2 separate regions of the Homo sapiens genome follow, and region 1 is linked to region 2. Evidence: fine-mapped expression QTL. A gene starts in region 2. The other region holds a variant in brackets. All regions are shown on one strand. Distances are between the middles of the regions. Region 1 has its middle 12 kb from the start of TRE-CTC2-1. Region 2 holds the start of SH3BP5L (SH3 binding domain protein 5 like).

What was found. PIP is the estimated chance that this variant, and not a neighbour inherited with it, causes the effect.
Region 1: its variant is the best candidate, but not a certain one, in a credible set for the expression of SH3BP5L in whole blood (INTERVAL, PIP 0.60).

What each region holds. Positions count from the first base shown.
Region 1 is chr1:248,878,319-248,894,856 of GRCh38, forward strand. It overlaps a transcript of PGBD2 not described here. Among named protein-coding and RNA genes, the nearest start is that of TRE-CTC2-1, 12 kb to the left of the region's middle. RefSeq lists cis regulatory regions at 6,666-6,878, 11,101-11,557 and a silencer at 11,752-12,046. The variant T/C (reference allele first, on the strand shown) is at 10,370.
Region 2 is chr1:248,816,170-248,832,707 of GRCh38, forward strand. SH3BP5L (SH3 binding domain protein 5 like) reads right to left here and starts at 9,746. Exons shown (of 7, transcript NM_030645.3): 1 at 9,666-9,746; 2 at 8,584-9,197; 3 at 653-715; 4 at 365-493. The coding sequence starts at 8,766. It overlaps MIR3124 (microRNA 3124), which reads left to right and starts at 10,208; the gene lies at 10,208-10,274. RefSeq lists a silencer at 2,721-3,015 and enhancers at 4,541-5,740, 9,418-9,477, 9,540-10,091, 9,848-10,107, 10,092-10,642 and 2 more.

The DNA of each region.
Region 1 (16,538 bases), 62 kb after region 2:
ACGGGGCCCGCCACCACGCCCAGCTAGTTTTTGTATTTTTTGTAGAGATGGGGTTTCACTATGTTGGCCAGGCTGGTCTCGAATTCCTGACCTCGTGATCCGCCCGCCTCGGCCTCCCAAAGTGCTGGGATAACAGGCGTGAGCCACCGCACCTGCTTCCACATCCTTTATGACCATAAAGGCAGTTGATTAAGGTAAGAGTGGGGGTTGCTCTTATAAAGACTTTCTCTCTTATTTAAATTAAAACACCCCAGGTTAAGAGCTTGTTGGAATGTGCTCGTTTTGTCTAAGGTTTTAAGTTCTCTTTTCGGTAGTCCATTTAATCTCTCCTTATATTCTGCTGCACTGGGATTATAAGGTATGCAGAAATTCCATTGTATAACCCATTTATCTGCTAATGCTTCTGTAGTCTTTGATGTAAAATTAGTTTCCTGGTTACTTTCAATTATTTTAGAAGCTCCATAGTACACTGCCCAATTTTCTATGGCTAAGATGGTGTATTTGGCAAATGGGTGGCTCGCCGCTATTGCTATGCCAGTCTCTGTATATGTATCCACTGTTGTTATGGCATATTTTTGTTGGTTGGAGTGATTTAATGGTCCTATAAAATCTATCTGTAGGCAGAAGTTAAAGGTGTTGGGTTTGTGTGTATCTATGCTTTAGTGTATCCATATTTCTCCAGGTTAGTTTTACATTGCTCACAATTAGCTATATGCCTTTTAAATTTGATGTCGTTACCTTTTGATTTGTCTTAACAGCCACCTGAACAGTGAGTGTGTGCCTAAATGTCCTTTCTGCTTATGTAATTATAAGAATGTTTGTAGAGCGTAAGCTGCTCACAGCGCCTGTTTAATTTTAAATTCATCTTGCTGTTTTATTATGGCTACTGGGGGTACTTGGGGTATCTCCCATTCATAGTCTGATTTTCTTCTGAGTTGTAGAGGTGGCGATGAATGTCTTCATGAGTTGTGCGGATTTCTGTGTAGCTTTAATTTGGGTACATTTTGTGTGTCAATTGTTATGTTCCCTGTTAATTCATCTAATTATCTATTAAATTGGTGGCCTTTGAATGATCTTTTTATTTTTTGTTTTTTGAGATAGGATCCTTCTCTGTCACTCAGCCTTGAGTGTAGTGGCGTGATCTCAGCTCACCGCAGCCTCAACCTTCCGGGCTCAAACTATTCTCCTGCCTCAGCCTTCCAAGTAGCTAGGACTACAGGCGTGTGCCACTACGTATGGCTAATTTTTTTTCTTATCTTTTGTAGAGACAGGGGTCTTGCTATGTTGCCCAGGCTGGTCTCCAACTCCTGTGCTTAAGCAATCTTCTCACTTCAGCCTCCTAAAGTGTTGAGATTACAGGCATGAGCCACTGTGCCCTGCCTAAGTTATCTTTTTGGTATGCTGATATGTGTCATAAATATCTTAATTCTGTTTGATGATTTATATAGTTCCTCTCAGTAAGATTCGGACCATATGTCATTGTCATTAATTTTAAAATTATTTTGTTTCCATTTGTGTGATTATGGGGCTATGTTGTTGTGACTGCTCATGAATTTGTAAATATATACACATATATATATTCTTTTGATTTTCTGATACTGAGTGTCCAAATGCTCTAACAACTGCAATCAGTTCTGCATGCTGTGGAGAGAGCAATTCATTTGACTCCTTCAGGATTATATGGTCCTGGAGTCTGAGTGCTTCTGCTGTTCAATGGGTCTGGCCTTTGGGTCATGGAAGCTGATCCTTCCATAAACCAGGTGTTTGGCAAGACATTAAACGAGACCAGGACCCATTTTCCTATATTGTCACAGATTTTTCTTGTCTTCAGAATACATTCTGGCAAGTCTATTTTTGTCTTGTGAATCTGCTCCATGAGAAGACCTGATTGACCCTCAAAGCTGTTGTCTCCACCCTGGATGTATCCATTCCATGTGAGCAGTTTTGGACCAATTTGGATACCTGTCAGTTTTCCAGGACTCAATTTTATCCAGTGAAGAAAAGGCATATGACATTTTTTGTAATGTTGTTGTTGCCAGTCAGATGCTTAGTGGTTAGGGCTTCATGTGTAAGCCGTATGTATTTTTGAATGGGCTGTATTTGTTGTTCGAGTATGGGAATTTTGTTATCTGAAATCCAACCAGTAGGAAAGATTTAGAATCTAGTTTCTATGTCCATAATGATCATGTTCTATATTCATCACTCATCAGAACTTTCAACCCAAGTTGTGAATCTGAAGATGGGTAATGCAGTGATTGAAATGTGCTAATGTAGTCTTTGAGTGTTTCAAGTTCTTGTCCATATGTGAAGTCTTGGGATTTTCTAGATATATTGGTTCCAAGATGATGTTTAAGTAAGGTGTATGCTGTCTCCAATATCCAGATAAAACTGTTAGTCTTTGTTCCTCCTGTTTGTTTTTGTCAGCTTAAGGGCTTTTATTTTATCTATTACTGTGGTTGAGATTTTTCTCCCTTCTGATGACCATCGGACTCCTAAAAATTTGCAGTTGGTGTCTGGGCTTGTGTTTTTATCTATATTAATAGTCTATCCCAATAATCTTAAATGTGTTATTAATTGGGATTTTTTCCTGTTTAATTTGTTCCCTAGTCATTATTTAGCATTATGATGTTATCTCTGTATAATATTATTAGTGACTTGTAGCATGATGTGTCTCCCACCAGGTTACTTAAGGGTATGCATCTGCTGCCTGAACCCTGAGACTGAGCAGTGAGCCAAAGCCATGGTGCCCAGCCTAGGAGCAGGGGTCCCTGAGAGCCCAAACATCCCGTGGAGTATCTGAGAACCTTCCGAGAAAAACAGTCTCATTGCTTAAACACAGTAGGCAAAGAGCCAGAAAATTAGCTTAAGCAGTTTAGAAATGAGAGGTGGTGTGGATCTCTAGAGCTATCCTACCACCATCCAGGAGTCCCTGTATGTAAGTCCAAATACATTCATTTACTTCTCAAGCTGGACTTGTCCAAGTCATTCTTTGGTTCTTGGTTTCTTTCCAGTTTGGGGGATGCACATCACGGTCCCAAGTTTTTCTTGTTATAGATGTATATTTTGATTGGTCTATGTGTGATGACAAAATGGAATGAACTATTACTGAACTATTTAGATATCCCTGTGGTAATGTTTTGAATTGGTATTGTTTACCTTCCCATGTAAAGTTGGTATATTCCTGGCTTGCTTTATTTATTGGTTTGGCAAAGAACACATCTGACATGTCTATGATTGTATAGTATTTGTCATTATGATTAATGATCTTATTAACTAGCTCTTCTACATCTGGTAATGCTCTTGGCATTTTAGTTGAGACTTTATTTAAATTTCTATAGTCAATAGTTAATCTATAGCTCCTGTTTGTTTTTAAGACAGGCCATACTGAACTATTAAAGTTATTTGAAATGACAATTGTAATAATATCTTCCTTGAGGAGTTCTACAATCTTTGCTGTTATTTCTTTAAGTCCTTCCTTTAATGAGTACTGTTTGGTGCATGTAACCTGCTGTGGTGTAGACAGTGTTATGGACTTCATTTTAATTTGAACTAGGTTAGAAAATTTTAGTTCCTCTAGTTTCCTTTAATATAAGTTAAAAAGATTTGGAATAAAATTCATTCCTGTAATGTCTTATAATTTGGGTGAGCAGTAAAAAGTGCATAGAGCAGTATAGAAGCAGAGGCAAGAAAGCTTCAAGTTTATTTACCTCTGAGTCCTTCTGTATGAATGTTTATTGTGGGATCTGGCCAGCAGCCCGCAATGCAATGGGGCTCTCTCTTTGTTCCCAGGCAGATCGGCAGGTTGAGAAATAATAGACACACACAAGATAGTGAAAGCTGGGTCCAGGGGGGTCACCGCCTTCTGGTCCCACGGAGCCAAAAATGCACGGGATATACCAGCATTTATTATTAAGTTTAGTGAGGGCAGGGGTAGGTTAGTGAGGGATTTAGGGTCATTTGATTATGAGGTTAGATGGTCACATGGGGATGAAGTAATTCTTTAACATAACATCTGTATGCAGAAGTACAGTATACAGAGATAAGAATTTACAATATAGTGTGTGCATCAGTAATTTCTAACAGAGCCTTAAAACAGAAACACAGTATTTCCATTACCTATGATTAGCAAGATATTAATCAGCAGTAACAGTTGCAGGAAAAGCTGGTTACAAACAATCCATAGAAACAGGACATGAAGCTAGACAATCGGTTAGACCAGAAATTCTCAGAAGGGAGTATGCCTTAACCCTAAAGAGGCCTAGAAGAGCCGTGGCAAGATGAGGGCGTTTATAGCCCTATCTTATCCATATGGACAGGCGCCCCTCATGTGTCTGTTTATAGGCTCTCCACAAGGGTTGCATTCCATTCCCAGAGCTATGAACATCTGTTTTCCTGGGATAGGAATCTTAGTGATGTGAAACCTCCCTGACCGCACGTCCATTCATAGGCTCTCTGCAGGGGGAAGCACATCATGCACTGTTGGCTCGTTCTGGCAGTCCAACCTGGCATTGTCTTTACACAATCCTGCATGCAATTTTGTATTTACAATAATCAGGAGCATTTCATCTTTTATTCCGTAGCAATAGTTTCAGGGGGTCTCCCTACAAATGTTTATGTCAGAATGTGGTGCATTATATTTTAGAAAGCTTACTTGTGATCCAGAGCCTTAAAAAAATGGTATGTATGTATATATTTGTCAATTTGTATATAGCTAATTGTTCATATGGTCTGTTATCCCCAGGTTTGAGTGTTATAGCCTGCACCTGGAGGGTTTCTAGTTTTTAAAGAATTTCTTTGTTTGTTTGTTTTTTGTTTGTTTTTTGAGACAGAGTTTCACTCCTGTTGCCCAGGCTGGAGTGCAATGGCGGGATCTCGGCTCACCACAACCTCCGCCTCCCAGGTTCAAGTGATTCTCCTGCCTCAGCCTCTCGAGTAGCTGGGATTACAGGCATGTGCCACTACGCCTGGCTAATTTTGTATTTTTAGTAGAGATGAGGTTTCTCCATGTTGGTCAGGCTGGTCTCAAACTCCCAACCTCAGGTGATCCGCCGCCTCGGCCTCCCAAAGTGCTGGGATTACAGGTGTGAGCCACTGCACCCGGTCCTTTGCCCATTTTTAAATGGAGTTATTTGTTTTTTGCTTGATGATTTGTTTCAGTTTCAGTTCTTTATAGATTCTGGATATTAGGCCTTTTTCAGATGTATAGTTTGTGAAAATTTTCTCCCAGCCTGTCTGTTCACTCTGCTGATAGTTTCTTTTTTTTTTCTTTTTTTTTTTTTTTTTTTTTGAGACAGAGTCTTGCTCCTGTCGCCTTGTCGCCCAGGCTGGAGTGCAGTGGCACGATCTCGGCTTACTGCAACCTCAGCCTCCCAGGTTCGAGTGATTCTCCTGCCTCAGCCTTCCAAGTAGTTGGTACTACAGGCGCCCGCCACGATGCCCAGCTAATTTTTTTGTATTTTTAGTAGAGACTGGGTTTCACCATGTTAGCCAGGATGGTCTCGATCTCCTGACCTCATGATCCGCCCGCCTCGGCCTCCCAAAGTGCTGGGATTACAGGCATGAGCCACCGTGCCCGACCCTAGTTTCTTCTACTGTGCAGAAGCTCGTTAGTTTAATTAGGTCCCACCTGCCAATTTTTCTTTTAGTTGCAATTGCTTTTGAGCACTTAGTCATAAATTATTTGCTAAGGCTGATATCCAGAAGAGTATTTCCCAGGTTTTCTTCTAGGATTTTTATAGTTGGAGGTCTTATATTTAAATATTTAATCCATCTGGAATTAATTTTTGTAATTAGGTAGAGTCCTAATTTTGTAAAAGGTAGAGTCCAGCTTCATTCTTCTGCATATGGCTAGTAAGACACAAAATTTGAGTTAAGCTGTGTTAATGAAAAAAACCAAACTCTGTAAAATATTTTAAAGTGGTTTATTCTAAGCCAATATAAGTGATTTCAGCCCAACGAAACCAGTCTCAAGGAGTCTTGGGAAAGTGCCTTTGAGGTGATCAGATTACAGTTTTTCGTTTTTGTTTGTGTTTTTTTTTTTGAGACAGAGTCTCGCTCTGTAGCCCAGGCTGGAGTGCAGTGGCGCGATCTCGGCTCATTGCAACCTTCGCCTCCTGGGTCCTGGTTCAAGCAGTTCTCCTGCCTCAGCCTTCTGAGTAGCTGGGATTACAGGCACACACCACCATGCCCAGCTAATTTTTGTATTTTTAGTAGAGACGGGGTTTCACCCTATCAGCCAGGATGGTCTTGAACTCCTGACCTGGTGATCCGCCCACCTCATTATAGTTTTTTAAAAACACATTTTAGGGAGCAAGAGTTACAGGCAAAGACAAATCAATACATGGAAGGTATACATTGGTTTGGCCTGAAAAGGTGGGCTATCTTGAAGCAGGGGCTTATAGGTTATAGATAGATTCAGAGATTCTTTAATTTCAGTTGAATGAGTAAAGCTCTGTCTAAAACTTGGAGTCAGCAGAAAGAAATGTTTTAAGTTAGGATAATAATGCTATGTAGCAAGATTAATGACCTGCAGGTGTGCCTTAAGTCATGCCTGGCATGGTCTTAGGTCTTGTTTATAATTTGATATCTCATTACCACAATGAGTCTGTTTTGTCAGTCTTATGATCTCTATTTTCAGATGAATCCTGGTCAGTTTTTGTGCCTTAAATTTAAAAGGAAGAGGGTAAAATGAGGTGTATCCTACTTCCCATCTCATAGTGGCCAGAACTCAGTTTTTTAAGTGAGACTGCAGACTTTTTTTGCAGTCCCCTTGGCCACAAGGGGTCTCTTCTGTCATTGGAGGACTTAGGATTTTATTTTATTATCATTTTTTTAGAGGCAGGATCTCACTCTTTTGCCTGGGGTGGAGTGCAGTGGCATAATCATAGCTCACTGTAACCTTGAACTCCTGGCCTGAAGTGATTCTCTCACTTCAGTTTCTTGAGTAGCTAGGACTACAGGCATGAGCCACGATGTCTGGCTACTTTTTAATTTTTTTTTTTTTGTAGAGATGGGGTTTTGCTACGTTTCCCAGACTGGTCTTGAACTCCTAGCCTTAAGCTATCCTCTCACCTCAGCCTCCTGCATGGCTAGGACTACAGGTGTGTGACCCCATGCTCAGCTAAAAATTTTATTTTTAGTTTACATTTGTTACATCAGGAATAGAAAATTAATATAGTACCCAACAGAGCCACAATTATTTTAATTTCAAAACCCAGTCTTGGTTCAGAAGCTAGACCTCCTTTGAATTAGACATGGGACTAATGAATGCACCCTCCAACCAACTCTATCCCACTTAAAGATAGTGAGGGTAGGGACCCCAGGAGAAACAGTGCTTGATGAAGACTATCTTAACAGTTCTATAACCCCCACACTCATCCTGTTCTTTATATATTTGAAGCTGACCATAAGAGAGGAATCACGGACCAGTTCCCTGGCCATTTCCTTCCTAAATTCTGCATTGAGAGATCTGTAATATCTGATGTATCTAAATTGGCAATTCAAAGTAAAGCAGAGATGCATTTGAATAACCTGCTACACATGCAAATAGTTGCTAAATAAACACATGCAGGCCTTGAGATGGAACTATGTATCACATTTTCACATCTGCCATTAGAACATAATGTCTTCCTTCTACAAAGTGAACTTTCCTACCCTGTCAGTTTACTCCTCAGTAATTTGTCTTAAGGTGTTACAAGGATACAAATCATGAATGAAAAAAAAAATAAGAAACGTGTCTTATGATATTTTGTGCAAATAATGGTTACCAAAGAAAGGCCTTGTTGATGTTAACTCTGGTTTGCACCAACTTGCCCCATGTCCAAACGAGGAAAGTGATGAAGACAGATCTCTCAGTGGCTGCTACATGCTAGGTTTTTTTCAGGAAGATTTACATTTTATTACCATAAAGACAAAAAAATAAAAATAGGAATGTATGAGTTATCAATATCACCAGCCTGATACTTGAGTGTACATTATTCATAGAAATATCATTATCTAAATCAGTCTTAGGGTGATCACCTAAATGAGTTCTCACCTCTGGGACTAATTGCTTTCTTGTGCTGAGAAGTGAGGATGACTGTTGATTTAGTACAAGAGATTAATTACTTTCAGAGCTCCTTCAGAGATCATTTGTACTCCATCTGAAAGATTGATCTGTTTGAATTCAAATTATACCACTGAGATATTGAACAAAAAGCAGCTAAAGAGAAGAAAAATATCTTCCTAGACATTGGGATAAAAGGTGGGGGTTGGGGAATCTGATTTTCATGTTGGAGAATTGCATTTTTGGAGTTTAAACTGCCCAGCTGCCCTTAGACTCATCCTGGACTCTTGCCATTTGCTTCCTCTGCCTGGGGAGACAGCACTTTGTGAATGCATGCTCCAGCTGTGTGGCCCCAGCCTGGTCTTCTGGGAATGAGGAATGTTGGCAGGAGTTGAGGGATCACCATAATAAGCTCTTATTAACTGGCGTTTCTTGGGATTCTCTTTGGAGGGTTCAAAAGGAAACTTTAAAAGCATTTACTTCCTGTGATAAAGCAGTCAACAGCAAACCTGTAGTGAAAGGATCACAGGTTTCCAAAGAGCAAGCTAATTAGAAAATCTCAAGGGGGTAAAACTCTGCAGCATGCCAGTGGTTTGGCTGCCCATTATGATATATATTGTACTCAGGATTACAGGATATATAATATTTATGTATGTTTTTATGCATGCATATGTATATGTATTTGTTATACACACATAAGCTTACTATTTATTTTGAAAATATTTTAGACTTATAGAAAAGTTACAAAAATTATAAAAAAATATAGCCTTCACTCAGCTTATCCTAAGGCTAACATTTTACCTGATCATAGTATTGTTTCCAAAACCAGAAAGTTATCACTGATACAACGCAATTGACTAAAATACAGGCCTTACTCAAATTTCCCCAGCTTTCTCACTAATGTCTAATCCAGGATCCCAAATTGCATTTGATTGACACATCTTCTTAATCTCTTTCCATCTCTGATGGTTCCTCAGTCTTTCCTTGTCTTTTTTGACCTGGACGCTTTTTAGGAGTTCTACTCAGTTGTCTTGTTGAATGGCCCTGAGTTTGAGTTTGTTGGCTGTTTGTTCATTATTAAATAGAGGACATGCATTTGGCAAGAGTGCCACAGAAGTTATATTGTACGCTTCCCAGAGCATTATATCAGGAGGCATATAATACCAATCCATCTTGTTAGTAATGATGTTATTCTTAATTAGCAAAAATGAGTTTTCAGTTAGGAGATGATGGGAGCGAAACACACCAAACCAGTAGAATGCTCCAGTCTGGACAAGAAACTGGCTTGATGGAAGGCAATGGCTTTGTAAAAAATTTAATTTTAATTTTAGATTCAGGGGGTACTTGTGCAGGTTTATCATTAGGTTGTGGCAAAAGTGATTGCGATTTTTGCCATTACGTTCAATGGCAAAAACCACAAACACTTTTGCACCAACCTAACACAAGGGCAGATTGTGTGATGCTGAGCTTTGGGCTTCTGTTGATCCCATCACCCAAACAGTGGACATAGTACTCAATAGGAAGTTTTTCAGCCCTTGCTCCTCTCCCTCTCTGCCTCCTTTTGGAGTCTCCAGTGTCTGTTGTTCCTAACTTTATGTCCATGTGTACCCAGAGTTTAGCCCCCACTACTAAGTGAGAACACATGATATTTGCTTTTCTGTTTCTGTGTTAATTCACTTAGGATAATGACCTCCAGCTGCATACATGTTGCTGCAAAGGACATAATTCTATTCTTTTTTTATGGTAGTGTAGTACTCCATGGTATATATGTACCACAGTTTCTTAATGCAATCCACCGTGGATGGTCATCTAGTTGATTCTATATCCATGCTATTGTGAATAGTGCTGCAATAAACTTATGAGCGCAGGTGTCTTTTTGGTAGAACAATATATTTACCCTTGAATATATACCCAGTAATGGGATTCATGGGTTGAATGGTAGTTCTAGGTTCCTTGAGAAATCTCCTAACTGCTTTCCACAGGGGCTGAACTAATTTACATTCCCACATAAGTATTCCCTTTTCTCTACAGCCTTGCCAGCATCTGTTATATTGTTACTTTTTAGTAATACTCATTCTGACTGGTGTGAGATGATATCTCATTGTGGTTTTGATTTGTATTTCTCTGATGATTAGTGATGTTGAACTTTTTTTACATATTGGTTGGCTCTATGTCTTCTTTTGAAAATTGTCTATTCATGCCCTTTGCTCATTTTTTAATGGAGTTGTTTTTTGCTTGTTGATTTGTTTCAGTTCCTTATAGATTCTGGATATTAGACCTTTGTCAGATGTATAATTTGTGAATATTTTCTCCCATTCTGTAGGT[T/C]GTCTGTTTATTCTGTTGATAGTTTCTTTTTCTGTGCAGAAGCTCTTTAGTTTAATTAGGCCCAACTTGTCAATTTTTGTTTTTGTTGCAATTGTTTTTGAGCACCTAGTCATAAATTATTTGCCAAGGCGAATGTCCGGAAGTGTATTTCCTAGGTTTTCTTCTAGGATTTTTTATAGTTTGAGGTCTTACATTTAAATCTTTAATTCATCTTATTTTTTGTATATGCTGAGAAGTAGGAGTCTAATTTCATTCTTCTGCATATGGTTAGCCAGTTTTCCCAGCACTATTTATTGAATAGGGAGTCCTTTTCCCATAAACACTGGCTTTGATGCATTCTAAGTGTTTCTTACTTTTGACTATGACTTATAATAGCAACAATAACAAGAATGATAAAAATAAAAAATGAAATACATGGGCCGGTAACTGTGGCTCACGCCTGTAATCACAGCACTTTGAGAGGCCAAGGTGGGCAGATCATGAGGTCAGGAGTTCGAGACCAGCCTGGCCAACATGGCGAAACCCCATCTCTACCAAAAATACAAAAATTAGCTGGATGTGGTGGTGCGTGCCTGTAATCCTAGCTACTCAGGAGGCTGAGGCAGGAGAATCGCTTGAACCTGGGAGGCAGAGATTGCAGTGAGCCAAGATCATGCCACTGCACTCCAGCCTGGGTGACGGAGCGAGACTTCTCCGTCTCAAAAAGAAAATAAATAAATAAATAAATAACACTTACTGAGCCGGACACTGTACTAAATGTTTTCCGTTTAATATTGTTTTCATTTAATTCTTACGACAAATTATGAGATAGGTACTGAGAGAGCAGGAGCACCGTCATCTCAAACAAACACTGCAAGCTCCCTTTCTAGCTTCATGCATTTCAAGGAAATCACTTATCTTCTAACTACAAGCAGCCAGAAAAGAGCAGACAGTAAAACACAGATAAGGCAGCTCGGGGACAGGGAAAGGAGGGGAGGAAGTCTCTTAGGTAACTGCCAAACTTCACCCTCATACACTGGAGCCCCAGTAAAACAGTGGGCCTTAATAAGCACATTCCTTTCCCTTCAGGTGCTCTAAGACAGGGAAGCTAAAGGCAGACTCGGGGGATATGCTTGCAGCTGCAGAAAAATGTATGGGAACAGACACAACTCTCCCTCCCAGATAGGCAAAACAAAGAGTCACAGAAGCAGTCCAAGCCTCTGATAAACTCTCCCACCCTGAATCCTTTTCTTTTTCTTTTCTTTTTTTTTTTTTTTTGAGACGGAGTTTCGCTCTTGTTGCCCAGGCTGGAGTGCAATGGTGTGATCTCAGCTCACCACAACCTCCACCTCCCGGGTTCAAGTGATTCTCCTGCCTCAGCCTCCCAAGCAGCTGGGATTACAGGCATGCGCCACCACGCCCAGCTAATTTTGTATTTTTAGTAGAGACGGGGTTTCTCCATGTTGGTCATGCTGGTCTCAAACTCCCGACCTCAAGTGATCCGCCTGACTCAGCCTCCCACAGTGCTGGGTTACAGGCGTGAGTCTCTGCACCCGGCCTGAATCCTTAAAAACTCTTACTCTGCAAGAGTGCAGCTTCTGCCCTAACTAGGTCAGAAGTCCCCACAGGTTTGTTTTCTGAAATAAACCTGTCTTCTGTCGAGCCACCCTTCATCTTTCTCTCCTCTTTCTTTAATTCTTACAGGTACTATTATTGTGTTCACCGTTTTTATGCGAAGAAACAGATGCAATGGGATTAGGAATCTTGCCCAAGGTCACAAAGTTCCTATGAGCCAGTGTCAAGATGCAAGTTTAGGCTGCCTGGCTCCTGACTATTCTACACAAACCATGTGGTCTCTTACCAGTCTAAGGGCTACAGAAGTAATCCATGTCATGAAAGGACTCAGCCCACTTACAATCACTCACCCCACACACTACATGCACCACACACATACCACATCATACACATTATACACACACCACACATACCACACCTCACAGATACACACATGCACCATACACACCAACACCGACCCCCACACACACCCACACCCAGCTACGCTACAGACCACCCACACTACACATTATACATTACACACCCCGCACACCACACATCACAGATGCACACACGCACCACACACCACACACACAACATACACCACACACACCCACACACACCACACACCTCCCCACACATCCACAGCCCCCCATCACACTGCAGATGCTATGCATCACAGATACACACATGCACCACACACCACACCTCCCCACCCCCGACACAGCCACACCTCTCTACACACCACAGACATCACACATCACAGACACACACATTCACCACCCACCACACACCCACAATATACACGCAGGCATGCACATACCACTCACAAATCACTCACGCACTGACGCATGCATGGTAACATAGACATACACTCATGGTTACATAACTGAAAAAAAGTTATGCAAACAAAATGTGTCTCTGTCAGATGTGTTGCTCCAACATTTTGTTTTGTCTTTCATTTTATTTTTTAGAGTGCTGGACACTGCCCACTACATTAATGGTTCTCTCAAGGTGGGGCAGCCCTGCCTGTAGCCAACTAGACTGAGATAACAGTATTAGCCTCTTCTCTACAAATCCAATTTGAGGCCAGACAACAGAGGGAACTCGGTGGGTGAGGACAGTGTAGACTGGCTGTGCTGTAGATATTTTTGAGAAAATTTGTGATTGTGAGTGGGGCATATGGGTTATACTTTTTGGGTTTCATGATATAAATTTTGAGAATGCTTGATTCAATGATTTGTCATCTCTTTTGCTTAATAAGAGATATATACTTTGATGAAGAGCCACAAGAGAATGTCTAAAGTACTTTTAAGAAATATTTTTGGGCCAGGCACAGTGGTGCACACCTGTCATCCCAGCCCTTTGGGAGGCTGAGGCAGGTGAATTGCGTGAGCCCAGGAGTTCAAGACCAGCCTGGGTAACATGGCAAGACCTCATCTCTACTAAAAATTTAAAAATCAGCCAGGCACAGATGCCTGTATTCCTAGGTACTAGGGAAGCTGAAGCGGGAAGATGGCTTGAGCCCTGAAGGTTGAGGCTGCAGTGAGCCAAGATTGAGCCACTGCATTCCAGCCTGGGCAACAGAATGACAGCCTGTCTTTTTAAAAAAGAAAAAAAAGTGTTTTTGAAGAAAAGTCCAATCTCTTGTAAATAAAGTCTTTATAGCTAATTTATACTTTCTAGGTAATGACTAACACAATGAAAACTAAGCTCTTTATGAAGTCTTTGCAGTAAAGGGTTGATTCAGCAGAAAAAAAGGCGTCGCCTGTGTCAACCCCAAATAACCAAAAGGATCAGAATCTAGTTTAAAGAGAGTTTATTCAAGCACAAAGTTGAGGACAGGCCTGCCTGGGAAGCACAGATTCCAAAGAATGGAAGTCAGTGCTCCAAACTGTAGATTTGAGATTGCTTATATAGACAAAGCATGGGGAAGTTTAACAGACTTTCAACATCTTTCTATATAAGGGTTAATGCATAGTTACAACAATCTGAGTAGGTCAAGGTAGTCTTGTTCCTTCCTTCCCTCCCTCCCTCCCTCCCTCCCTCCCTCCCTTCCTTCCTTCCTTCCTTCCTTCCCTTCCTTCCTTCTTTCCTTTCTTCCTTTTACTTTATTTCTTTCTTTGAAAGGCATATTTAGCATTCTACCCTGACGATGTAACGGTCATAGAGGGACTTGGGTGTCATCTGGTCTGAGTTAGTTACAGGACAATAAAGGAGGCAGTTAATCTAAAAAAAAAAAATCAGTGATTGGATGGAGGCGTGAAGGTCTGGTTTCTGGTCTCCTAGTCATTTATAGAACAAGAATAAAAATGAAGAGAGTTAAGCTGTAATCTAAGAAGCACAACTGTAAACATTCTATGTGATTCAATCTCTGGGACTTAACTTCTCCTTTGGCATAATATATTTAGAGGGTCCTGAAATTTTCTTTTCTTTCACACCTGGCTATTAAGAAGCTACCTCTAAGCCCTTGGAATATCCTGCCTGATAAAAGTGTTTTTATTTACTTGCAGCTTGGGCTACCCCAGACAGTCTATGTGAACAATATGATTTATGGTGTGGGCCTTGACTCATGCAGTACCAGCTTGACCTTTGGATGGGTTGGAGACTCAGGCTAACCACTCAGGTAGTCAATCATATCTATTTGACTCACCTCTGAGAGAAACTCTGGACACCCAGGCTTGAGTGTCCTTCCCTGGTTGACAATTGTCTATATGCATTGTCATACGTTGTTGCTTGGAAAACTAAGCACTGTCTATACAACTGCACAGGGAAAAGACAACTGGAAGTCTGTTGTGGTCTTTTCTGGATACTCTATATGTTTTACCTTTGGTCATTTATTTTTCCCAGATTTATTGAGGTATAATTGGTATCCAGAAAATGGCACATAATTAATGTATACAATTTGGACATAGGTGCATACTCATGTTACCATCACCTCAGTAAAGGCAATGAACACATCCATCAATTTCAGAAGTTTCCTTTTATCCCTTTGTTGTTGTTTTCGATAAGAACATTCAACATGAGAAAAATCCTCTAACATTTTTAAGTGCACAAAACCTTATTGTTAACTTACGCACTATGTTGTACAGCAGTTCTTCAGAACTTATGTTATGTAACTGTAACTTTATATCCATTGAATAACAACTCCCCATATCCCTCTCCCCCATCTCCTGGTAACCAGGATTCTATTGCCTACTTTTTATATGTTTGACTATTTTAAATACCTCATATAAGAGGAATCAGGCAGTATCTGTCGTACTGTAACTGACTTATTTCATTTAGTATCATGTCTTTCAAGTCCATCTAAATGACTGCAAATAGTAGGATTTCCTTCTTTTTAAAAGGCTGAATAATATTCTGTTGTCTGTATGTTTGTGTATACACATGTGCATTTTCTTTATCCACTCATCTCTCAATGGACATTTATTTGGGTTGTTTCCATATCTTGGCTATTGTGGATAATGCTACTATCAATGGGAGTGCAAATACCTCTTCAAGATTCTAATGTTTATTCTTTTGGCTACATACCCACAAGTGTTATTGCTGGATTATTTGACAGTTCTAGTTTAAGTCTTTTTTTCAGGAAACTCCATTCTATTTTCCATAATAGCTGTATTAATTCACATCTCCACCAACAATGTATAAGGTTTCCCTTTTCATTACATCTTTGACAACATTCTTTTCTTTTTTGTTAATTGATTGATTGATTAAAGACATTCTAACAGGTATGAGATGATATTTCACTGTGGTTTTGATTCCTGTTTCTCTGATGATTAGTGATGTTGAGCATCTTTTTATATGTCTGCTGGCCCTGGCCATTTGTAGGTCTTTGGAGAAATGTGTGTACTCAGGTCCTTTGCTCATTTTTATATCAGGTTATTTTTGTTTTTGCTATTTATAGGAGTTCCTTATGTTGGAAATTAACCCATCATCAGATATGTTCTTTGAAAATATTTTCTCTCATTCTTTGGGTTGTCTTTTTATTTTATGGGTTGTTTCCTTTGTAATGCTGAAACTTTTTAGTTTGATATAGTCCCACTTGTCTATTTTTGGGTTTTTTTTGTGGTTTTTTTTGCCTGTCTTTTTGCTGTCAGATATATGAAATCATTGCCTGGACCTAGAAAAGTCAAGGAGCTTTACTTCTATGTTTTCTTCTAGGATTTTTAGGGTTATATAACTTACGTTTTAGTGGTTAATCCATTTTGAGTTAATTTTTGTGTATGGTGTAAGACAAGACTCCGATTACATGCTTTTGGATGTGGATATACAATTTTCCCTATTTATTGAAGAGACTATCATTTTCCTATTGTGTATTCATGGCACTCTTGTTAAACATCAGCTGACAATGTATGCATGGGTACCTTTGCTGATTTTAACCTGTATTCTTTCACTTTAATAAGTCAAAACTCACTGTAATGAATATACACATTTTCTTTTTTCTTCTTTTTCCCTTTCTTCCCTCCCTCCCTCCCTCCCTCCTTTCTTTCTTGCTTGCTTGCTTGCTTGCTTGCTTTCCTTTCCTTCCTTCCCCTTCCCCTTCCTCTTCTCCTTCCTTCCTTTTCTCTCTCTCTCTTTCTTTCTTCTTTCTTAGATGAGGTCTCGCTCTGATTGTCACTGGCTGGAGTGCAATGAC
Region 2 (16,538 bases):
AGAAGAGAGACATGAACCAAAGGGAAGAGGAAATGGGCGCAGATGAAAACAACAGGATGTTAGAACTGACATATCTGATATACCCTAAAGCCTGATTCCTGATACACAGAAGGCACTTAAACATTAGCAGGGCTGAACTAAATATTCTCCCACAGCCACCCTCACCATTTTATAGACCATAAGCCCAGAGCCCACGTGGTAAAGGAACCTCCTGAGCCCACAGAGCTGGTTCCGACCAGCCAGGTCTAGCCCAGGGCTCTGCCCTCAGGGTCTGGTGTTTTGTCTCTCACTCCATATAGAGACAGAAGAATCCAGGGCCAGGCTCAGCACGTAGCCTTCCTCAAACGTGGTCAGCCAGCCATACCTCCTTAGCCAGCCGCCGAGCCTCATAGTAGGGCCGGGCTTTCTCGATGCAGCTCCCCAAGTGGGAACCCTGTGTATTCAGTTTCCTCGCCGACTCCTGTAGGATCCTCCGATAGGTGGTCCTGGCCTCCTGGAAAGGAACAAGGCAGAGGAAAGGCACATGTTTGGGTCCCAGCCCCTCTTGTTTCTCAGACACACCCCTCCCACCGCCACTGCCTCAATCTGGGAAAGAGACAGATGGAGATACTTCCAAGGACCAGCCCAAGCACATAAGGAAAAGGACACTCACATCCAGCTGTAGTTCCACCTGGTTGATCTCCTCGCTGGCCTGGTTCAGGTGCTCCAACTCCTCCTGCCACAGAGAGGGGTGGCAAATTAGTGCAGTGGAAGGAAGTAGCCTTGAATGAACCATGCAAGGCAGGAGCAACACAGAGAGAGAGAGCCCCACTTGCCCAGGGAAATGAGGTGAGACACTCAGGAAAGGAAAGAAGATACGGAGATTGCCAAAAGCTTTCTTGTCTATCAGGGACCTGATACATACAATCTCACGTAATCCTCACAACTCTACCTTGTATTGGGTAGTAAAACCCCAGTTTCAAGGATGAAGAAATTGAGGTTTGGAGAATGCAACACTAATATGCACAACGTGAAGTTGTGGTGAGCCCTCACTCTCTCCGTGAGATTGCAACACTTCCTCAAACTGAGGGAGTCTCCTTGGACCTGAAGGCTCGCTCTCTGCGAGAGGATGGCCACCTGGGCCAGGGCAGGGCCACTCAGTCAGCACATGTTTACTGCACACTTATCACCTCTCAGGACCGTGAGACCTGAGAATTCAGGACATAGAGGTGGCAGCCTGTAAGGAAACCCAGCAAGTCAGCAGCAGGTCCTGGGCAGTATGTGCAGCCTTGTGAGGGGTGGGTGTGGGTGCTCTCTGGGTAGCAAGGTCACCTAATTGGGCAGCAGAAGGTCAGGGTAGGATGCCTGGAACACTTGCTCAGCAGCTGGAAGGACTTCATAGACACAAAAGTGCCAGTGAATGACTAGGCAAGGTGGCTCACGCCTGTAATCCCAGCACTTTGGGAGGCCGAGGCAGGCAGATCACCTGAGGTCAGGAGTTTGAGACCAGCCTGGGCAACATGGTGAAACCCTGTCTCTACTAGAAATACAAAAATTAGCCGGGTGTGGCAGCGTGCACCTATAGTCCCAGCTACTTGGGAGGCTGAGGCAGGAGAATCACTTGAACCTGGGAGGCAGAGGCTGCAGTGAGCCAAGATCACACTACTGCACTCCAGCCTGGGCAACATAGCGAGACTCTGTCTCAAAAAAATAAAGTGCCAGTGAAGAACAAAGGGCCAAGGAACCAAAGGGGAGCAGGTACCCTGGGCAGACAAGTTGGCAGGTGAGAAGGTCAGTAAGGCTACAGCACTATGGGAGGTAGTACCAGGACTTTCTGCAATGGCAAAAGGGTCTCTCAGAGCCTGGTGCCAATGTAACGAAAGCCTGGGGGAGCCAGGGAGACAAAAGTGGAGGCTGGGACAGGCATGGTGGCTCACACCTGTAATCCCAGCACTTTGGGAGGCAGAGGTGGGCAGATCACTTGAGGCCAGGAGTTCAAGACCGGCCTGGCCAACATGGTGAAGCCCTGTCTCTAGCAAAAACACAAAAATTAGCTGGGCGTGGTGGCACACATCTATAATCCCAGCTACTTGGGAGGCCGAGGCACGAAAATGGCTTGAACCCGGGGGGCAGGGATTGCAGTAAGCCCAGATCGTGCCACTGCACTCCAGCCTAGGCGACACAGTGAGACTCCATCACAAAAACAAAAAACAAACAAAAAAAAAAAGGTGGAGGCTGTCTATAGTATTCCAGGTGGCAGAGGAGAGGGCAGATCCCAAGGCAACGCAGGACACAGAATCACAGGGGCTTGGTGGATGACTAAGGTCAAGATCAGGAAAGTGTATAGAGTCCAAGAAGCCTTTTGGCCTGCTTGGGCAATGGGTGACCATGACCGCAGGTCCCTATAGAGCAGATCCTGTGGGAGGGAGGGAGAGTCCTGGGGAAAAGTTGCTGGACAAGCTGGTTTGAGTGCCTTCCTGGCCCCTGGAAGGACTGGAGAGAGAAGCAATAGAACCATCCAGGGCTTTCCATGAAATGGAAGAGAGCTGAGAGGGGTACTGGCCTCAAGTCATCCTCCCTTGCCCGAGAAAACACAAAAGTTCCCAGAGCCCCTGGTGAGCTAAGGACACTACTGAGGAGCAGTGCTGGTCTGTGCCAAGGGCCTTGTGCCAGGAAATACCTGGTGCCTAGCTATAGGATTTGCCTTCACCAGCCCCTGCTGTCTCTGGACAGGAGGCTGGACAGGCCAGAGAGACCCAGCCCAGCATGTGCCTGCTGCCCAGACCCATGACTTGCACTTGGCAGTGACACCACAATCACTTCCCACTCATATGGCCGTGATGTTGGCCCCCACTCACCTCATTCGGGCCTTTCAGCAACCCAGTGAGGGAGTCAGGCTGACATGCACAATCTTCCTTTTAGTCCCTTCTACCTCTTCTATCCTCCCCCCATCCCCTGCCTTGATCCTGAAAAGATCTGGGTCAGCAGGTAAGAATACAGGAAATGGTTTGACATGTTAATTACAGTAACAGGAAGAACACAAAGGTAGAAACCTGTAATGGAACGAGGAATGAGGATATGAAAATGCACACACCTACCTACAACAGTGTAGACCCTGCCTAAGGAGGGCCACAAATCTGGCTCTAAACTAGGGATGTCCAATCTTTTTGCTTCCCTGGGACACACTGGAAGAAGAACTGTCCTGGGCCACACATAAAATACACTAACACTAACTACAGCTGATGAGCTTAAAAAAAAAAAAAAAAATCGTGGGCAGGCGCAGTGGCTCACACCTGTAATCCTAGCACTTCAGGAGGCCGAGGTGGGAAGATTGCCTGAGCTCAGGAGTTTGAGAACAGCCTGGGCAACATGATGCAAAGCCCATCTCTACTAAAATACAAAAAAATAGCTGGGTATGGTGGCACACACCTGTAGTCCCAGCTACTGGGACGGCTGAGGCAGGAGAATCACCTGAATCTGGGAGGCGGAAGTTGCAGTGGTCTGAGATTGTGCCACTGCACTCCAGCCTGGGTGAAGGAGCAAGACTCAGTCTCAAAAAAAAAAAAAAAAAAAAAAAATCACAAAAAAAAATCTCATAATGTTTTAAGAAAAGTTTACAAATTTGCATTGGGCCGTGTTCAAAGCCATCCTGGGCTGCATGCGGCCCACAGGCCACGGGTTGGAAAAGCTTGCTCTAAATTTTCTCGAAGAGACTTATTCAACAGAAACGTAACAGGAGCTGCACATGGAATTTTTAATTCTAGAAGCCACATTTTTTAAAAGTAAAAAAATTTAAAAAAAGAGTGAAATTATAAAAATACATTTAACCCAATATATACAAAATATATTTCAACATGTGATCAACATAAAATAATATTATTATCCATACTTTTACTTTTTTAAACTAAGTCTTCACAATCCGTATGCACTTGACTCTTGTGACACATCTCAACCTAGACAGTGGCATGTGGCTCCTGTGTTGGGTGGCGAAGGTCTAGAAGTTGTTGTATTTGGGTAGATGCATCTACAGTGTCCCACAACCCAGTGTCCATAAAATAACAACCATTCTGGAAGAACAGGCAGCCAACACAGCTCAGGGCCCCAGAGGAGGCATAGGGTCAGCATCAACACTACCAGACACATGGAACTCCAAGTTTCACAGTGCCTTCCGAACAGAGACATCACCAGCAACTGACACGATCACCCCAACAGGCCCTAAAAAGGCAATGTCTGTCAAGCTGAAAGGCAACCTACCTCCCTGGGGGCCCAGCTTCCTGGGGCTTGACGAGGCCTACAGGGGCTTTTAGGCTATCTGGGAGACGAGTGACCAGTTCTTTCAGCACCTCCTGCTGGAATATTCTTTCTCAGCAACTTTGCATTTGATAGATGAGAAACAACCAGGCGGAAAATTAGTGACAGACTTGGGTCTGGATCCAGGACCGACCTTTGATCTCACTTTCCTTCCACTGTGACCACCCTCCTGGGAATGAGGACACCACTGGAAGGACATCTCAGTAAAGAAAGAAGTGCTGTAATCTAGGAAAACCACAGCCCACGTAGGAAAAGGACAGGGATTGGAAATGCAACAAACATTGATTGTGGGGGGTCAGTTGGTAAAGGCCACCCTGCAATGTTCATGTGGCAAATCAAAGTCCAAGACGGGATCCCCACTGGATTCCATGGCCTCAAATGCTTCCAGTCATCAACTTCCAGCTCCTGACAAGATCATCAATGGATTGGATGGCTCAGCATAAGTTGTTACTACTGTTAAAAGGACAAGAAGAGCTGTTGCTATTGGCAAGTGGCAGGAGTGGGCATTATCTTTCTATATGGGAACTAGCTTCCCAGTGGCACCTCCAGCAATTTACAGAAAGCCATCTGCTGATGGGATCTGTCCCCTCAGAGTCACAAAGCTCTCCCTAACAGGACAAGAAGATGCCTGGGGAGCAAAGCAGCCTGGAGGGCAAGGTCACCACAGGAGGGAGGGGGATAGCCCACCTAGGCGACACCCAGGGAAAGGCTGAGCAGGAATCCACTGAGGACCTGGGACAGTTTTGGGCAGTCAGCAACACATTCCATTTGGCCTGCTTCACCAGGGACTCCTGGCACTCAGCTGAAACGGAATTTGGGGAGGACAAAGTCTGAATCAACGTGCATCATCCATCAGTGAGCCAGCAGCCAGCAGGGAGGGTGACCTTCCCAGGGCACAGCAGTCAGATTCCCAGGATGCCAGGACACTGAATCAAAGGCATGGGGACTCAGGCTGCAGATGCTCCCACCCCACCTAGTGCAGACCATCAAAAGACTCAAACTAATGGTAACTGGGGCCAGGGTGATGACTGTCCTGTGAAAGCTAAACCCATACTTCTAGATGAGGTCACAGAGGTTGCAAAGTCACCCTAGAGAGTTTGGAAAGGAGCAGGTAAACGAGAGCACTCACATCTGAGGAAAGAATGCAACCACTAAGAGGGGGCTGAGAAAGTCACAGAACAGACCCAGGTCCATCCTAGATCCACGCTCCTTTCCTCTTCCCTCCACTGGAACCCTCTCGGAAAGCTGAGGATGAGCCTGGAGGACTCAAAAGAACTCCACTAAGATCATGACAAGGAGACACAGCCAGCAGCCTTCCCTGGAGGGACAGCACGCTCCAGGTAGGCACCAGCTGACTTCCTTCTAACTTCCAGAGGAATCCCACCATAAATGGCCATGGAGCTGCCTGCCTGCAAAGGAGCCCCAGCCCCAGGTCAGACAGGGCCTCATCCGAAGGACAGCCATTTCCGGGAGCCTCAGAAAATACCGAAACAGGCGCTCTACCTTTGGGATATACCTGGCCCAGTGGATTTGGCTCTGACTGTAACATCAGAATCCCTTCTCACCCCACCCAGACTAAGAGAATCCACATGTCTGGAAAGGCTCAGGTAAGGGTATTTTTGAAGCTCCCTGGTGGCTTTTTATGGACGGTGGATGGAAACCCAGTAAATGCACTGAGAATCCAGAGAAATGAACACCCACCTAAAGCACTGAAACACATGATCAGAGCAATGTGCATGGTCTAGTGAACTGTCAACACTCAAAGGGACCTCGAAAGACAAACACCCCAATCTCCTCCTCATCTTGAAAGCCCAAGCACAGAAGGGCAAAATGCCACCGGCCTCCTCCGTGAAGGGTGCCCCTCAAGCCAGGCTGCCTCTCTCACACAGCAAGAAGACACTGACTCCCTGCTGAGGTCAGAGCACTGGCGTACCCACACCTGTGTCATCAAATGAGGGAAGCTATTACTAGACCTTTCCTCCCTATACAACCCACAACATTCCACAACGTGTTGTGCAGTTTAGCAAGAGAGACGAGGGTCTGCTTTACCTTTCCTGCACCAGCGACATCACAAGTTCACTGGAGGCAAAGTAAGTCTTACGCTACCTCAGTGTACTCCAACTCTCATAGAGCTCATCTGATAGAAGAGTCAGTGATGACAGAATATTCTATTTATGCACTGTCAGTATAACATTGAGGAACTGCTTTTTTTTTTTTTTCTGAGACGGAGTTTCGCTCTTGTCACCCAGGCTAGAGTGCAGTGGCAGATCTCAGCTCACTGCAACCTCCGCCTCCTGGGTTCAAGCAATTCTCCTGCCTCAACCCCCCAAGTAGCTGGGATTACAGGCACCCGCCACAACACCTGGCTAGCTTTTTTTATTTTTAGTAGAGACGGGTTTTCACCATGTTGGCCAGGCTGGTCTCAAACTCCTGACCTCAGGTGATCCACCTGCCTCGGCCTCCCAACATGCTGGGATTACAGGTGTGAGCCACCATGCCTGGCCGAGGAACTGCATTTTTACATGTTAATTTTAATTGATTGTGTTTAAATAGCCACATGCAGCTAGTCCACCCTATTAGACAGCACAATGCAAGCATGACTCTTCCTACTACTACCATGTGCCTATGCAGACACTGGAAAAATACATAGGAGTAGTAGAGGCCAAGTAAAGAGACCACAGTGGATTCTCCTCTGCAGAAGCCTTCTCTGGAGCAGGGCAAGGAAGGCTGTAGGGAGGCATATAATGCACATTACACAGCCCTCCTCCACAAGCAACAGAGAGACAGCTCTTTCCCAAAGTGCTATCTACAAACTATCACCAAGGAACAAGCAAAAAGAGTTTGAGAAAGAACTGTAGACTTGTGTCAGAGCAGAGCAAGAATGAGTTGTGCAAATCAGCTAGACCAACTGCTCACTTTACAGATGAAGAAACTGAGGCTCAGAAACGTAAAGAAACTTCCATAAAAATCATAAATCATGGGGTTGGAGGTAGCGTGAAACTCAGCCCAAGACTTTTTTCACTACAACTGATTTCCTCAGAGGATGATAAATCTGTAGAAATAGCAAGAAAAATTGGCTGTTTTCAATGCAATGTCAGGCAGAGCAGAAATAAATTACTGACTCATGCCAGAAACAAATGGCTCACCACTGCTCCATTATAAGCATGGACACAGTAGAAGAGGAACCCACACACACACACATATCCCAGGAACCCACACAGAGAGTGAAGGAAGAATGCCAGGACTGGCTTTGATTTCTTCCCAACTCACTGGAGTAATCCAATAAAGGTTTGCTGACAGATAAGCCTAGGAATTTGAGCCTTCATATGTTCTTGCTCACCTACAGAAGAGTCACTTCCACAACATCAGAGTCTTGGAGATGTGACCGGAACAAATGGCAGACTCAAGCCCCAAACATGCAGGAGCATCCTGGTCGTCACCTGCCCAAGAAGCTTCCTCAGGAAGTCATTCTCAGCCAATTCCCTGAAACACTGCAACCCAGCTTTGATTGGCCAGGCATCTCTTCCACATGGAGTTGGTCTTCCTCACTGACTACCCCCAGGTCTCCTACACAAAGATCTGCCTGTCCTACCAACTAGATTGTAGACACTCCAAGGCAATAAACTGCTCTTCCATTCCTTTAGGAGACCCACTATCCTGAGGGCCAGGTATGTATGTTACTAAGGATTGGCCACAACAAAAGTTACAAATCCTTGAACATATGGGGTTTCTTTATAGATCTAAAGTTGATGCTACCTTTATAACACTGGAAAGGTCTCACTGTTTACAAGGGTGAAACACATTATCAGAGCAATGTGGGCCGCACATCCCTGGAAGGTACCGCTGAGAAGGTGAGAAAGGGGAAAAGATTCTCTCACTCAGCCTCAAAACTGTCCCCCAGTATCAAAGTCATCTCCTCTCACACAGCATCCCTAACTAAGGTGGCAGCCCCTCTGCTTATCTGGAAAGAAGTACAACACACCTACCCTCCACTGACCTAAAGTGTGCCTCCTCCATCTACTGCCAAGTGACACTTTGCTCCTTCAGTGAAGCTTTCAGCAATGCCTCCCAAGCACTAAGGCCAGGCCTTTCTCTGCACTCCATCAGCACTTCAGACACACAACTCTTTTGGAACTTGTTACATTACCCTGCAATGATTTGTTGACAAACTTGTTCTCCTTTCCTGCCCCAGCAGACTGGGGACAGAGTAAGTCTAAGCCCTCATTCATCCAACACTCTTCAGGGAGGCTGGAATCTGGGCTCTCCTTCTCTCCCTGCTCTCAGTGCTCTCACCTGTATTCTAGGATCCAGTTCTTCCTCCTCTCTTGGGGACAATTTGGCCTCACTGCTGCTGCTTCCACCTCCTCCAGGCTCTTCTGCGACTGGGCTCCTAGGGACTTCATCCTCTACAACTTCAGGCCGCAGCTCCCCCTGTGGGGTCTCCCGCCCTCCTGGAACCTGTCTGAGCTCAGCCATGCTGACAGGGGGAGGGCAGAGCCCTATGCACAAGAGAGGACTGACATGCTGGGACCAGGGCCCCAGCTTGGGGCTTCCTGGGCTCTAGATGGCCAGGAGAAGAGTTTCTCTTCTCAAAAGGCAGAAAAGGTGGGCACAGGAAGAACCTCACACTAGGTTAGAGGTTGAGATTCAAGTTGTCAGTGGGGTTCCTAGAGCTGAAGCCTTGTCTGTGCAAAAGTTCTTCCCTTCCCGCCACAGGGAGTCCACTGTGACAAACCCGGAGCAACAGCTCCAAGGCAGGGGGCAAAGGGGGCTTGGATCCTGGACCGAGGCCTGCTAGGAGGAGCACCATTCGGGAGGGTGGAGGCAGGCGCCTCCAGGCTGTGGTGGCAGCTGGAGAGAGAAGGCTGGGCCCGAGCTGAGGCTGTAGGATGAGCGTCTCTGGGGAGCTGCAGAGAAACAAAGGCCAAGTATATGGTCATGTCAGCATCAAAACCGCAGCCACCAGCCCCTTCCAACTCTACAGCCTCCCAAAAACTACACTCTCACCACGCCCCCACCCATGTATTCCGACCAGTCCCTACCTCAACTTCTCTCCTTAGCCCTCAAGGACTTTAGATTCTACTCTTCCCCCGTCCCAGCTCCTCTCGACCCAGGCCCTCCTCAACCAGCGCCTTCGAGACTTTCCTCTGCACCCCTAGGCTCTCCTCCATCTCCTGTGGTCTCCCGCTCGTCCCACTCCACCCCAGCCCGGCTTTGCGATTCACCTTGTAACCCCGAGCCCCACCCCACCTTCTCTGTCCAACCCGAGACATCTAAGCCTCCCGTCTCCAATTCCACACTCTTCCGCAATCCCAAGGACCCTACTCCCGTCCATTCTACCCAGCCATGCGCAAAAGCCCCCCGCACAGCCTTACCTCAGTTTACCTTCCCGTCCGCGGAGCTTCTATGCTGCAAACAATCTCCCCCCCTCCCTCCCCGCAACAAGCCGATCCAACCAAAAACGACCAGGCAGACCAGAAGCGGAAATACATCATCGGTGAACAACGCTCTCCCTCCCACGCTCTCTCTCAAGCCGGGCCTCCTCGGGAGGCCTCACACTCCCCCGCCCTGCCTTCAGTTTCCGTACAAAATGGTGCCCCACGTTGCTCAGGCTAGCCGTAGGTTGCCTCCAGACCATACTCCACCAAGGCTGAATGAAAGAAAAACATGAGAATGTGGTGCTGAAGAAAATTAGGGCGCGGGACGGAAATCGAGAGTAACTGGTGAGAAGAGGAATACTAGATATAAAACGGAGATAATAGCCTCAGAGTGAGTAGTGCCATCTTGCTTTACGGAGCTGCGGCGGCGGCTGCCGGAAAGCCACTTCCGGCCTGCTCCACGGAGGCGGGCGCGACGCCGAAAGTGAGCTGGTAAACTTCCGGCAGTGGCTCCGGGGGCAACTCGAGTCCGGACGCTGGCGGGCTTCGCGGGCGAAGGCAAAGTCGATTTCCAAAAGTGACTTTCCTCACTCCCGTGAAGTCGGCGGAACCCTCCACTAACGGCGTCTGAGCGGACGGCTCCGATGTGTAAATCCCACTCCTCGAGGCCTCTGGACCTTGCACCTTGAACGACGTTTTGGTGGGGTCACCAATTGCTCCGTGAATACTAACCAGGAACTTAGTCAACATTAACTCAGTTAATTCACTCGTGCACCCAGGGTCAGATGCCCTCGATGAGCAGGAGTTTGTTACATGGCATTGTGTATCGTTACCTAGGTCCCTGAGCGAGCGCCTGCTTGTCACCTCTAGGTGTCGCTTGGTGAGGGGAGGGCCTAGGCCTAAGGGGAAGGGCTTCATTCAGGGTTGGATGTTTTGTTTTTACAAAAGGCGTAACTTCCTCAGAGTCAACTCAAAACTTTGCCCTGCAGATGGAAAAGGCAAATGGGCTGAATTCCCCTCCTTTTTGGATCCTGTCAAAGACAACCCAGCTAGACATTGAAGCAGTGAAAAAGACTTTTTTCAGTAACTACTTACAGAAAGGAAAAGAACTGACCTCTGTTCCGATTTGTACAGAAGTGACTGGGCATTTCAAAGGGAGAATGAAGGAAGGAAGGTGATCAGGGCTCAATAGTGTTGGAGAAGTGAAAAATTACAGATTTGATTGGCATAGATGCGATTCGGCCAGATGTGTCTGCTAGCTAGCAGCTATAGAAGTTAGAGTGCTTTTTTATGTATTTATTTATTTTGAGACGGAGTTTAACTCTTGTTGCCCAGGCTGGAGTGCAATGGCGCGATCTTGGCTCACTGCAACCTCCGCCCCACCCCCACCCCCGAGTACAAGAGATTCTCCTGCCTCAGCCTCCCGAGTAGCTGGGATTACAGGTGCATGCCAACACATCTGGCTAATTTTTCTATTTTTAGTAGAGACGGGGTTTCGCCACGTTGGCCAGGCTGGTCTCGAACTCCTGACCTCAGGTGATCCACCCGCCTGGGCATCCCAAAGTGCTAGGATTAGAGGCGTGAGCCACCACGCCCAGCCTAGCTTGCTATTCTTGCACTGAGATTGGGAGGTAGAGGCTCTGCCCTTCTTGACGATCAATTTCAAAGGAATGGCTCTCAGGTCCTTTAGAAGGACCTCTTGAGTTGTAGCAGACGCATAAACACCTTAAAGAGAAGAAGGAAGGATTCATAATGGTAAGCCCTTAATAAACGCCCTGAGAAAGGGAGGTCAGGAGCCTATCATCAGGTGTTGGCTAGAACAAATAGTAAATTCTCCTGGTAGCATTGAGCTTTCTCAGGCAGGCATTTTCATGGGGGAGCTGGGGTTCTCCTAGGGACATGATCTGACACTGCTAGAAGGCATGCTAAAGTTTGTCTCTTAGTAACTCAGAGGTTTGGATGGAGTCATGTGCCAAGAGTTCTACAGTTCTCAGTCCATTTCTTCTATCCCTTCATCCCATGAATAACGATTTTTTTAAATTGAGCAGAGCAAAATATATTCCTTTAAAAGAGGTGATTGAAAACAGATTTTTCCATTAAATTGGAGGTTTTGTTTTTAAAATTACAAAAGTGATTTTTCTAATTTCAATAAGTCAGCAGGACCTTGAGTAACATTGTCTAAGTGGACAGCTTTGATGGATAATAATGCCTCAGTCTTCTACCACAGTCCTTTTTATTATTAAGGTGCCATACAAAAACCATAAAAATTAAATATAAGGTGATAAACATGATTTATTTGTTGTCTACCAGTCACTTTACTTTTGTAGAACTAGAATTTCACTGTAATAACCTCATTTTACCCAGGATGTTCTGTCTACCCTAGCCTGAATTATCTAACCTTTCTTATTCAGCACTGCTCCAATACCTGTCATTCTTATACCCCATCCCATAGCTCCTTTTCTCTGTGTAATGCTTAGCAATCACAAACTGCTGCTACGTGTCACAGATCTTTGGTGGGAAAACATTATGAATACATATAATGGCCAGACCCCTAGATCACATCCTGAGATTTAGCAGCTCCTTTAAAGTCTCCACTGGCCTCTTCCAAGGTTAACTCTCACCCACTGAGACCACATGTGAATCTATCATGTATAGATTGTGATATAATCCCACAATAGTTTTTCTGCTGGGTTTGGATAATGTTTTGGGTAGGAAGAGATTGGGCGATGCTGTGCATTGATTTAACCTGAACTTGTTTATTGAAGCCAGCACAAACATGATGAATTAAAACTTTTGTCTACAGCAGCACTGTCTGAAAGACCTTTCTGCAAAGAAGGAAATGTTAATCAGCTCTGCACAGTATGGTAGTCTGTAGACACATGTGGCCATTTAGAACTTGAAATGGAGCTACTGTGATTAAGAAGTTGTATTTTTTATTTTAATTTAAATAGCTCTGTGTAGCTAGTTTCTCCTTTCCTGGACAGCACGTTTTTAGAACCTGCCTTTTCTATATAATTTCTCCAGAATACATACTGAACTTTCACATCTTCAATACAAAACAAACAGCCTCTCAGTCTCCACTATCATTTGTCTTTTCTCCACTTCCTCCCTTCCCATTCACCCCTACAGTCTGGCTCCGGATGCTGCCAATTCATAGGAATTACAAAGATAAGGTCATCCATGCTCTCAATATTGCCACATCACTGACATCTGACACTGGGTTATTTCTCTCTTTTTTCTTATCATTTAGCTTCTGAGTCACCCTGGTACTGGGTTTCCTCTTCTCTGGCTTGTTGATTCATTCCTTTATGCAATATGTCTTTACGGAGTGCCTATTACGTGCCAGAATTTCAGGCAATGATGAGAAAAAGGACACTATCTCACTTCCCATGTAGGTGATAGTCTATGGTGCTCATTTTATTTTATTTTTGTTTATTTATTTATTTACTTATTTTTACTTATTTATTTGAGATGGAGTCTCACGCTGTCGCCAGGCTGGAGTGCAATGGCACGATCTCAGTTCACTGCAACCTCCGCCTCCCAGGTTCAAGTGATTCTCCTGCCTTAGCCTCCTGAGCAGCTGAGACTACAGGCACATGCCACCACGCCCAGCTAATTTTTTTGTATTTTTAGTATAGACAGGGTTTCACCATGTTGGTGAGGCCGGTCTCCAACTCCTGACCTCAAGTGATCCACCTGCCTCAGCCTCCTAAAGTGCTGGGATTACAAGTGTGAGCCACCACGCCCAGCCGATGGTGCTCATTTTATAAACTGGTGAGATTCAAACTAATTGGAAGACAACTCAGATATATGTTTTACCTTGCAACCCAGTATACATATATGTGTGTAAATATATTCATTAAAAAGGTACAGGACCTCTCCCCTCTCCCCTCTCCCCTCTCCCCTCTCCCCTCTCCCCTCTCTCCTCTCCCCTCTCCCCTGCACGGTCTCCCTCTGATGCCGAGCTCTCCCTCTGATGCCGAGCCGAAGCTGGACTGTACTGCTGCCATCTCGGCTCACTGCAACCTCCCTGCCTGATTCTCTTGCCTCAGCCTGCCGAGTGCCTGCGATTGCAGGCGCGCGCCGCCACGCCTGACTGGTTTTCGTATTTTTTGGTGGAGACGGGGTTTCGCCGTGTTGGCCCGGCTGGTCTCCAGCTCCTGACCGCGAGTGATCCGCCAGCCTCGGCCTCCCGAGGTGCCGGGATTGCAGACGGAGTGTTGCTTACTCAGTGCTCAATGTTGCCCAGGCTGGAGTGCAGTGGCGTGATCTCGGCTGGCTACAACCTCCACCTCCCAGCCGCCTGCCTTGGCCTCCCAAAGTGCCAAGATTGCAGCCTCTGCCCGGCCGCCATCCCGTCTAGGAAGTGAGGAGCGTCTCTGCCCGGCCGCCCATCGTCTGGGATGTGGGGAGCGCCTCTGCCCCACCGCCCCGTCTGGGGTGTGAGGAGCATCTCTGACCGAATGCCCTGTCTGAGAAGTGAGGAGCCCCTCCGCCCGGCCGCCGCCCCGTCTGGGAAGTGAGGAGCCCCTCTGCCCAGCCGCCACCCCGTCTGGGAGGTGGGGGGCCCCTCTGCCCGGCAGCCGCCCCGTCTGGGAAGTGAGGAGCCCCTCTGCCCGGCCGCCACCCCATCTGGGAGGTGTACCCAACAGCTCATTGAGAACGGGCCATGATGACAATGGCGGTTTTGTCGAATAGAAAAGGGGGAAATGTGGGGAAAAGAAAGATCAGATTGTTATTGTCTCTGTGTAGAAAGAAGTAGACATAGGAGACTCCATTTTGTTCTGTACTAGGAAAAATTCTTCTGCCTTGGGATGCTGTTAATCTTACCCCCAACCCCGTGCTCTCTGAAACATGTGCTGTGGCCACTAAGGGTTAAATGGATTAAGGGCTGTGCAAGATGTGCTTTGTTAAACAGATGCTTGAAGGCAGCAGGCTCCTTAAGAGTCATCACCACTCCCTAATCTCAAGTACCCAGGGACACAAACACTGCGGAAGGCGGCCCTCTGCCTAGGAAAACCAGAGACCTTTGTTCACATGTTTATCTGCTGACCTTCCCTCCACTATTGTCCTATGACGCTGCCAAATCCCCCTCTCTGAGAAACACCCAAGAATGATCAATAAATACTAAAAAAAAAAAAAAAAAAAAAAAGGTACAGGAAAAGATCTTTACCCAAATTATATGTAAAGCACATTAATATTTTTATACTATTTTTAAATGCTGGTGGAGATCTCTTGTTGATTTCATTACCTATTCACAGTTTGAAAACCCTGTCCTAAATGTTACTGTACCCCAGGCCCTGATGTTAGCTTCTGACCATCTCATGCTGCCTACTTTCCCTGAGTGTCCTTACCCTAGTGCATGGCTGTAGTCCTTACCCATGGCTACTGTTCCTTCCTTAGAGCTCTGTCTTCACAGACTTTCCGCAGATCACATTCTGAGATCCTTCAGCCTTTGAGATACCGCTGGCCTGTCCCAGAGTTGCCCCTCTCTCATGGATCCAAATCTGATTTCATCCCCTTTGCCAAATCCTGCTCTTCTGACATTCAATGCTGGTAAGCGGTTCTACAGTCCACCTCTTTACCCTACGGAAAAACCTAGAAGGCACCCCCCACATTGCTTTTCATCACACTAAGTATCTCAGAGAGATGCCTTCTGTTCATCTCATTGCCATAGCTTCAGCTTAGACTCTCCTCATTTCCATCATAGATCACATACCTCAGAAGTCTTCTAAATCAGCGCTTAAAGTAGCACTTAAGCAATGATGGAAGTTACTATATTTGCACTGTCCAATATGGTAGCTACTAGTCATGTGTAGCTCTTGAGCAGGTTTAAATAGCCACATATGGATCCTGCCACAAGGATCCCTCCTAGTTCCTGGCACTAATAAACAACCAACCAATCCCTATAGACTGACTTTATGAGTGAAATGTAAAAATATGAAAGCCATATAAAGATGTTAGCAACACTGTCAATTACTATGTAATATCACAAATCAACTTTACTTCTTAGTTAAATAATTTTTTCATAAATTTTTACTTGTAACTTTTATTTCTAATTTTCTCACATAAGTACCCTAAATTGCCTCCATCATTAAAAATTACCTTTTTTAGGTTTTTTTTGTCTACCAACATAAGCTACCTTTTTATAGTTCTTAACTTTTTTCTACTATCAGTTATATATTTAATAAATACCACCATTAATTGCTGATTAAACATATTAGTTGACAAATATATAGTAATAGAAAGCAGATCAGTGGTTGCCTGGTGGGGAGGTGGTAGAGATTACAAAGTGGCATGAAGCAGCTTGTGGGTAGTGGATATGTTCTCCATCTTGATTGTAGTGAGGCTTTCATGCGGGTATATATATGTCAGAGCTTTTCAAACTGTACATTTCAGTGTGTAATTTGTGTATCAATTATACCTCCCTAAAACTTTTTTAAAAATCCAGTTGAAAACTTGCTCCCAGAAATATATAATGTAAAATCTACTAATAAATGTTAATGGAAGGGACAGCCTGTATTACGCTTATTTGTTTATTTAACTTTTTAGAGACAGGGTCCTGTTCAGTCACCCAGGCTGGAGTGCAGTGGCCTGATAATAGCCCACTGCAGCCTCAAACTCCGGGGCGCAAGCAATCCTTTTGCCTCAGCCTCCCAAGTAGCAAAGACTACAGGCCTTCACCACCATGCCTGGATAATGTTTTGATTTTTGTTTTTGTAAAGATTGGGTCTTGCTATGTTGCTCAGGCTGGTTGTGAACTCCTGGCCTCAAACAGTCCTCCTGCCTCAGCCTCCCAAACCATTAGAATTACGGACGTGAGCCCCCACGCTTGCCCTAAACCTGTATTACTAAAAATCTTTATTTTTA